Regions from separate parts of the Homo sapiens genome. Here all the other regions are linked to region 2. The links come from fine-mapping of genetic effects on gene expression. A gene starts in region 2. Each other region holds a variant in brackets. All regions are shown on one strand. Distances are from middle to middle.

Region 1 (2,764 bases), 52 kb before region 2:
ATTCGAATTTGTATAGTGTTAAGGTAATGCATATTTGAATTTATCTTGCTGTTTGAGAAATTTGAATTCTACCAATTACAGACAATTCTGTAATTGTCTATAACAACAGTAGGAATTGCACACTTAAAATCATTAAAATGGCAAAATTTATGTTATATATATTAGTTACACCACAATAAAGAAAAAGAACATAAAAAGGAAGAAAAAAATAAGGCTTTTTCTCTGAGAGAGAAAAAGAGAGACACAGTTTTGGTTTTCCCCCCATTGGAATATGGAGTTAAGTGCAGACCACTCAAGATACACAAATTTCTGACCAGAGCACTTACAAGTAGCAATTCCAAAATAAATACCAGTACAATAAAAAAGATGTTATATTCATCTTTATTTATTTATTTAAAAGGAAATAAATAATTTCCTGTAAAATAAAAGGATGAAAGCAGCTTGATGGCAGCAGATGTAAAGAAGGATTGAGGCTGGCCAGGCGTGGTGGCTCACGCCTGTAATCCCAGCACTTTGGGAGGCTGAGGCAGGCAGATCACGAGGTCAAGAGATTGAGACCATCGTCGCCAACATGGTGAAACCCTGTCTCTATTAAAAATACAAAAATTAGCTGGGCGTGGTGGCGCGCTTCTGTAGTCCCAGCTACTCAGGAGGCTGAGGCAGGCGAATTGCTTGAACCTGGGAGGTAGAGGTTGCAGTGAGCTGAGATCACGCCACTGCACTCCGCCTGGCGAGAGAGTGAGACTCCATCTCAAAAGAAGGATTGAGGCTGCTGAGTTAGGACGACAAAGGCAAAATGATAAACACAAGGCAGAAGGTGCTTATGCACCTCCCCCTGCCTCCAGGCTGGCCCTTGGGCTTGAAGAACTAGAAACACAAACTTGTTATCCCTCTTTCCAGAGTTCTCAAAATACAAGGATGCTAAGTCATGCTCACAAACTCGCCAGAAGCTGAAATACACAGCCTAGACTAACACAAAACTCCCAGCATGGCTGAAAATGCCTAGGGCCAGAATAGTCCAGTATTTCCCTTCAGGCAAAGTTGCACAGCAAATCAAAGTTTTAGATTTGTTTTTGACAGGGATTCAGAGGAAAAGGAGATGGTTTAATGAATTTAGCTCTGAGAGTCTCATGCATCATTTTACAAGAGAGGAATGTGCATGCCAAGCAAACCAAATGTTTGTAGCCTATGGCTGAGTCGTATCTCTTATGGCCTGTGGTCGGTGCACATGCTCATGGTGGTCACATGGGCTTCTCATATGCTATCATGGTGGACCAGTCTCCCACTGTGAGCCCCATCTTTGTGTTCACATTCATATTTTCAACCACCTTAAAATTACTGCTTGCTCTGAAATGACAGGTTAAAAGGTTATAAAGAAGATTTAGGTTTCAAATTTGTTCTAAAATACTTATAAATCAAGGGGGACAGATAGACAAATTTGTAAAAATATAGATTATTGGGGGTGATGGGTACTATTACACTATTCTCTTTAGCCTGTGTTTGAGAAATTCCATTAAAAATTTTCAAAAT[A/T]ATCTCTTCATTGTCCTTGGTGCTGGTCTGTCTCTCTCAGTACAGGGCAGGGGTCGGGGCTCTGAAGCCAAACTCCTTTGGTTCCAATGCCACTTCTGCCATGTGCTGAGATCTTGAACAAGTTTCTTGACCTGTTCATGCCAGTTTCCTCAACTGTAAAATGCTGGTAATAATGAAACTACCTCACAGAGTTTTTGTAAGGCTAAAATGAGATAATGCATGGAAAGGGCTTAGCAGTGTCAGGCATATAGTAATCACCTAATAAATGCTAGCTATTGTTACCCAAAATATTTTGCAATTTTTTTTTTTGAGACGGGGTCTCGCCCTGTCACCCAAGCTGGAGTGTAGTGGCACAATCTCAGCTCACTGCAACCTCCGCCCCCAGGTTCAAGCGATTCTTGTGCCTCAGCCTGCTAAGTAGCTGGGATTATTAGCATGCACCACCACAACTGGCTAATTTTTGTATTTCTTTCTTTCTTTTTTTTTTTTTAGTAGAGAGAAGGTTTCACCATGTTGGCCAGGCTGGTCTTGAACTCTTGACCTCAGGTGATCTGCCTGCCTTGGCCTTCCAAAGTGCTAGGATTACAGATGTTTTGATTCCATAGTTTAATTAATTCTGTGGGCAATTTATTTCGGCATTCCAATTTGAACACACAAGCCCACTATGAGGCCCATTCTCTCTCTCTCTCTCTCTCTCTCTCTCTCACACACACACACACACACACACACACACACACACACACTCTGTCCCTGCTCTCTCTCTCTCATTTGCTTGCTCATCAAAACATCTGCTCTGTATCTCACTGAAATATCTGTCTTCTGTTTCATTCCTCCAAGTAAAATGGTAACAACGCGTTAGAAAGAGTTGCATAGGCCAGACATGGTGGTTCACGCCTATAATCCCAGCAGTTTGGGAGGCTGAGGCAGGCAGATCACCTGAGGTCAGGAGTTCGAGACCAGCCTGGCCAACACGGTGAAACCTCATCTCTACTAAAAATACAAAAATTAGCTGGGCATGGTGGTGGGCGCCTGTAAACCCAGCTACTTGGGAGGCTGAGACAGGAGAATTGCTTCAAGCCAAGAGGCAGAGGTTGCAGTGAGCTGAGATTGTACCACTGCACTGCAGCCTGGGCAACAGAGTGAGAAAGGAAGAAAGGAAGAAAGGAAGAAAGAAAGAAAAGAAAGAAAGAAAAAGAAAGAAAGAGAGAAAGAAAGAAAGAAAGAGAAAGAAAGA
Region 2 (2,764 bases):
ATTGTTATTGATTTAACTATTTTCCTTATATTGGATTTTTAGGTAATTTCCATTTTTTCACTACTCAAGACTACATCCTTGCATGAAAATCTTTGCTTGACTCCGTTTCCTTAAATTCCTGAAAAAGGAATTACTGTCATAGAGCATAAACATTGTGAAGGTTTTTGGATCTTTTTTTCCAAATTGCCTTCCAGAAAGTTTGTAATAATTTACATTCCTGCCTTCTCATTCCTGCATCAACACTTTAATTTTTCCCAACATTTCAAAATTTTGTTAGAAAAGTTAAATCTTACTGTTTCATATTTTATTACCAATAAAGTTGATTATTTTTTCATATGTTTCTTGCCTGTCTGTAGTTCTTCTTTTGGAACGCTTAGTCCATACCATTAGTCTAATTTTTCTATCAGTGTGTTGGATTTTTTCTTTATTTGTAAGAGCTCTTTATGTATAAGGCTGTTGGCCGAATCTAGTGGCTCAGCCTGTAATCCCAAAACTTTAGGACTCAGAGGCAAGGCAGGAGGATCCCTTGAACCCAGGTGTTCGAGACCAGCGTAGGCAACAGAGTGAGACCCTATCTCAAAACCAACAAACAATTTATCTTATGTTGCAAATATTTTTCTTCATATGCCTTTAAACTTTATATATTTTTTTAATTCAATGAGGATTTACACTTTCATACAGGTAGATTGATTTATGTTCTCCTTTGTGGTTTATTCCCTCACTTATGTGTTTACAAAGGCCTTCCTTCACCCAAGTTAAGGTAAATATTCAGCATATTTCCTTGCTGTGGTTAAGAGATGTGAGAAGATACTATGAGAGACTCACTATGTTCACAACTTTTTCCAGTTAAATGAAGTCTTCCCACGTTTCCTAATCACTCACATTAAGCATATAGAATGGATTAATTTTAAATCTGAATATAAAACTAATTGCACAGCATGTTTCACTGCTCTTCTTACTGCCTACCTGGGGCACAGTCTCTTTGGCCTGAGTGGTCTCTTCAGTTTTTAACGAGTGGCTCCACAATTCCTTAGGAAGAGCTGCTCTCTTCTGTCTCCCTGGTGGTCGTAATTTCGCCCACACCTGCCCCGTCTTTGCTCTGCAGCTCCACACTCCCTCAGCCCCGCCGAGAGCTCCTGGCTCCCGTCTCCAGGTTACCCCAGGTCACCACAGCCACCTCTCTGCACCAGCGGCCCGCTCACGTACCCAGCTCCAGGAGCTCCTTCACGATGGCTTTTCCGATGCCCGTGGCCCCGCCGGTGACGATGGCCACTTGGCCCTGCAGCAAACCAGGCGCCAGGTAGCTCCTGCCCTTAGCCCAGGAGGCCATCCCTGCAGCGGGGTGCCAGAGCAGCTGAGCGCAGGCCCTTCTGGGTCTCAGGGACATTCGAGGCGGGCGGGCGGACAGGGCGGTGCTCGAGCCCACGTGACCACCAGAACCCCGCACCCTCCCCGGCCCGGCCCCGCCCCGCCCGCCGGCCGCGGCAAAGCCGCATCCTCCCGGAGCAGAACCGCTCCCCGCCGGCTGTCCGCAACCTCCGCCAGCGTCGGTCCCTGGGCAGGTGTGGGTGAGACTGCTCGTTCGTTTCTTTAAATTTCGATGCCATTGGGGAGGGTGGAAGGGAAATGCAAAAAAAAAAAAAGAAGAAGAAAGAAACAAGCAGGGTGTGCTCTATTTCAAAAATTCAATCCTCAGGGCTGAAGCTCTCACGATTAATTAAAATTAAATCTCCAGTGCAGCTGGAAAAAGAAAGGCTGCTGCTCGGCGCCCTCGCTGCGCCCGCCTGCCGGGGTCGGACGTCGGCGATGCTGTGGCTCCAGGTGCTGTGTGCCGCTGGCTGGGAAGGGGAGAAAGGGCAGGCTTAGCTGAGGGGGAGAAATGCGGCTTTCAGATCCTTTCATCCTTCGGGAGGGAGCCCGGGAAAGAGAGTGAAGGGGAAGAGGAGATGCGGTTGCAGTTTTCCACAGAACCAAGAGAATAAACGATTTGAAAAAATAAACTCAGGCCCACCTCCGTCTCACCTCCCACTCCCCACCCAAGAATCAAGGGGAAAGATCATCTTTACCAGGTTTGAGACCTGATCCATTTCAGCTGAGCTGCATAGCGAGTCCAGAAGAGGATCTTTCCTTGAAGGGTGCACGCTTCCTGCAAGATGCATCTGTAGGTGTTTGAGATCATGTCCTGTAGTTCATTCCTTGTGCAGGAGGGTGAGCCCGCTGAGGATGGGGAAAATTTCTCGTCTGTGTTATGGTGCCCAGTAACAGTGATTTATTATTCAGATCTGCTCCTTATTTTTCATCTTGCTTCCCGCTCTGAACCCACCAGAGTGAGATTACACCTGGACTGGCCTACTGAGACTTCACCCTAAGAACTTGGTCGAATGTGCCAGTTGCTGTGGTCTTAACAATCCAGATGGGATGCTATTTCTAAGGCTGTTGTCAGAGTGTTGCATTTTCCCCGGACAGGTATTAAAATAATATAAAGGCAAATAAATGCCATCATCCTTTTGTTGGACCTACCACCTAGGATTCACAAAGCCAATTGGAAATGGGTCTGGTTGACAGAGGAATCAGACCATCACTTCCTCCACCAGGTCCCACCCACCAGCGAGGCTGCAGTTCTTGTTGGACAGCTACACTTCCCTGTTGCTCCATCCTCTTGTCCTTCTCTGATCTCTTTTTAGAATCACTTCTCCCTCTATCTTTGTTGCTGACAGATTCAAATCTACACTCGTTAAAGAAAGGAATAAATCTCCTGGTTACC
Region 3 (2,764 bases), 44 kb before region 2:
AGGGCCAGGATGGAGTGCTTGCTGTCTTCAAAGATGCATGTCCCCAGTAGGTTTGGGACCATGTCTGGGATCCGGTAGATGAAACTGGGAGTGGCCCTGCATTCCATCATTCCCAATGATCTGCTGCAGGATTTAAGGAGAATAGCAGCACTGGAAATCCTGGTGCCAAAGAGGGAGGCTCTTGCCAGGGGACATAAGGTCCCAGTGAGCTACAAACTATGACTGATGCTGGAACTGATCTCTGAACTCCCTTTGTCCAGGCACCAGCAGGAGGAGAGAGAGTTACTTTTACACTGTAGAGAATCCACATGACCCACTGAGCGCCTGCTGGTATTCCTGTGGGCCACTGTAAATGTCAATGCATACTTTCAGCAAGCCTGTCTTAAGAAAGCATCACTTTGCTGCAATCTGAGATGCCTCCTGCCCAATCCTCTCTCCCCTCTCTTTTACAGGGGTCAGCCTTGCAGCATGGTCTGAAGGCCATCGCTGCCTTCTCTGGCTCCCTGCCCTTATCCTTCATGGGCCTGGTACCCAATAAGTGTCATGCAAATCTCATTATGTCTGGGCACCTGCTTTTCAGAGGACCTGAACATAAGCCACAAAGCATAAGATTAGTGTGGGGGAGGTATAATGTTCACAAGGGTCATCTTTATCAACAAACTCTTTTTACATAAATATAGAATTTTCATTTTGTTTCCTGTCTTTCAGTTATATGCCGTGGACATCATGGCCTTATCCTTTATAGCACTCGTGTTCTCTCTCTTTCTCTCAATCTCTCCCTACTGTAAGCTCAGTAAGGACAAGATACATGTGTATTTTTTCACCATTGCATGTCTGACTCCTAGCATAATGCTAAATACATAGTAGGTGCTCCAAATTATTAAGCCTATTCAAGAACAGTCACTCTACAACAAAATTTACTAAGCGTAGTTGCAAAAGTACATTATTGACAGGATACTATTATGATGTACATAAGAGTCCTGGATAATAAATTCATAATTCTAAAAATATAGATAATGACCAGCTGTCCAGTGATAGTCTAAGAAGAAGCTCTAATAAGCAGTTGTACCTAAGTTTAGTGCTACATAGGCAGGTTCTGTCCCTTAAGCAGAAATAACTGGCAACGCTATGGAGATTTAAGGAGTCGATGGCAGTCATTAACACAGGTCATGTGAAAGCAAGCCCTGCCTTTTCCATCTTCTCCACCAACCTGTATTAGGGCCACTTTTCCCTCTAACATGGTTTGTAATTCTCAGTTGTTATGATATTATCAGTTCCAGAAGGCCACTGTTAAAGGGCTATCTGGGAGGAAAATGAAGCTTTCTGATCTTCCCACATTATTAGTATGAGCACAAAATTGAAGGACACACTCACTCTCAGGGGCAATTCTGCACTGGCACAAACCTGACAATGGAGAATAGCTCCTTAAATGCTGCACCCTGGGCACCTCATTAGCCTCTCCCT[C/T]GTGCTAGCCCTGCTTGGGAGCATGAGAAAGCTGCAGATTCTGGGTCCCAAACCCCAGAGCTTGGTAACTCACACACTTTAAAATGAGGGTAAATGACAGGCCGGGCGTGGTGGCTCTCACCTGTAATCCCAGCAATTTGGGAGGCCAAAGCGGGCAGATCACTTAAGGTCAGGAGATCAAGACCAGCCTGGCCAATATGGTGAAACACCATCTCTACTAAAAATACAAAAATTGGCCGGGCGTGGTGGTGCACACCTGTCATCCCAGCTACGCAGGAGGCTGAAGCAGCAGAATCACTTGAACCCAGGAGGTGGAGGTTGTGGTGAGCCGAGATTATGCTACTGCACTCCAGCCTGGGTGACAGAGTGAGACTCCATCTTAAAAATAAATAAATAAATAAATAAATAAAGTGAGTGTTAATGATAAAAAAAAGAAAATAGCTACTTCACCTCAGATACTTGAAAGAACTTTGATTAAGACAAAGAATGAACATATTCAATCTGCTAAAGGCATTTCTTCAATAAGGGTCTAACTATCAGACTGGAGCCACGGAAGGCAGAATATGGAACCCTAATACATTTGCATGCAACTGAAATTTTGTTTTTGCCTACAAAAGGAGATACATGGAAAAAAGGGAATACTTTGGACAGAAAATCAAGACACAAATCAGGCACTGCCAAAAATAAATCACATAAAACTTTTTCTTTGAATTAAGAGAATTTATACAAATTTGACTTCATAAACAAAAGAAACTATACATCAATAATTACCATAAGGCATTATTGCTCCTAAAGTATTTGCCACCAAAAATAAGTCATTGTATAATTCTAATTTTAATAATCTTAATTACGACACAATTTAGGTTTATTTTCTACCTTTATAATTTTGTTGTTGTTGTTTGTTTTTGTTTTTTGGGTTTTTTTTGAGATGCAGTCTCACTCTGTAGCCCAGGCTGGACTGCAGTAGCATGATCTCAGCTCACTGCAACCTCTGCTTCCTGGGTTCAAGCGATCCTCCTGCCTCAGCCTCCCAAGTACCTGGGACTACAGGTGTGTGCCACCACACCCGACTAATTTGTGTTTTTGTTTTTGTTGTTTTTCAGTAGAGACAGGGTTTTACCATGTTGGCCAGCCTGGTCTTGAACTCCTGACCTCAACTGACCCGCCTACCTCGGCCTCCCAAAGTGCTGGAATTACAGGCGTGAGCCACTGCGTCTGGCCTCTACCTTTACAATTAAATAATAAAATCTTCTGGGAGTTCATGATCCCTAGAATTATCATTGATTTAAAATTATTCCAT

Direction of the effects. Alleles are on the strand shown, and positions count from the first base shown. SD is a standard deviation of normalised expression in the study named. Not every link is listed here.
As copies of T replace C in region 3, the expression in thyroid of the gene that starts at base 1,398 in region 2 goes down (small effect, 0.26 SD a copy in GTEx).

The links.
Region 1: its variant is fine-mapped to the expression of PECR in whole blood (TOPMed, PIP above 0.99).
Region 3: its variant is fine-mapped to the expression of PECR in thyroid (GTEx, PIP above 0.99). The same link has a PIP of 0.9 or more in whole blood.

The regions. Positions count from the first base shown.
Region 1 is chr2:216,028,723-216,031,486 of GRCh38, forward strand. It overlaps a transcript of MREG not described here and a transcript of PECR not described here. Among named protein-coding and RNA genes, the nearest start is that of MREG, 17 kb to the left of the region's middle. The variant A/T (reference allele first, on the strand shown) is at 1,531.
Region 2 is chr2:216,080,412-216,083,175 of GRCh38, forward strand. PECR (peroxisomal trans-2-enoyl-CoA reductase) reads right to left here and starts at 1,398. Exons shown (of 8, transcript NM_018441.6): 1 at 1,207-1,398. The coding sequence starts at 1,330. TMEM169 (transmembrane protein 169) reads left to right here and starts at 1,508. Exons shown (of 3, transcript NM_001142311.2): 1 at 1,508-1,568. RefSeq lists enhancers at 1,000-1,079, 1,110-1,159 and a silencer at 1,350-1,609.
Region 3 is chr2:216,036,240-216,039,003 of GRCh38, forward strand. PECR (peroxisomal trans-2-enoyl-CoA reductase) reads right to left here. Exons shown (of 8, transcript NM_018441.6): 8 at 2,149-2,764. Among named protein-coding and RNA genes, the nearest start is that of MREG, 24 kb to the left of the region's middle. The variant C/T (reference allele first, on the strand shown) is at 1,465.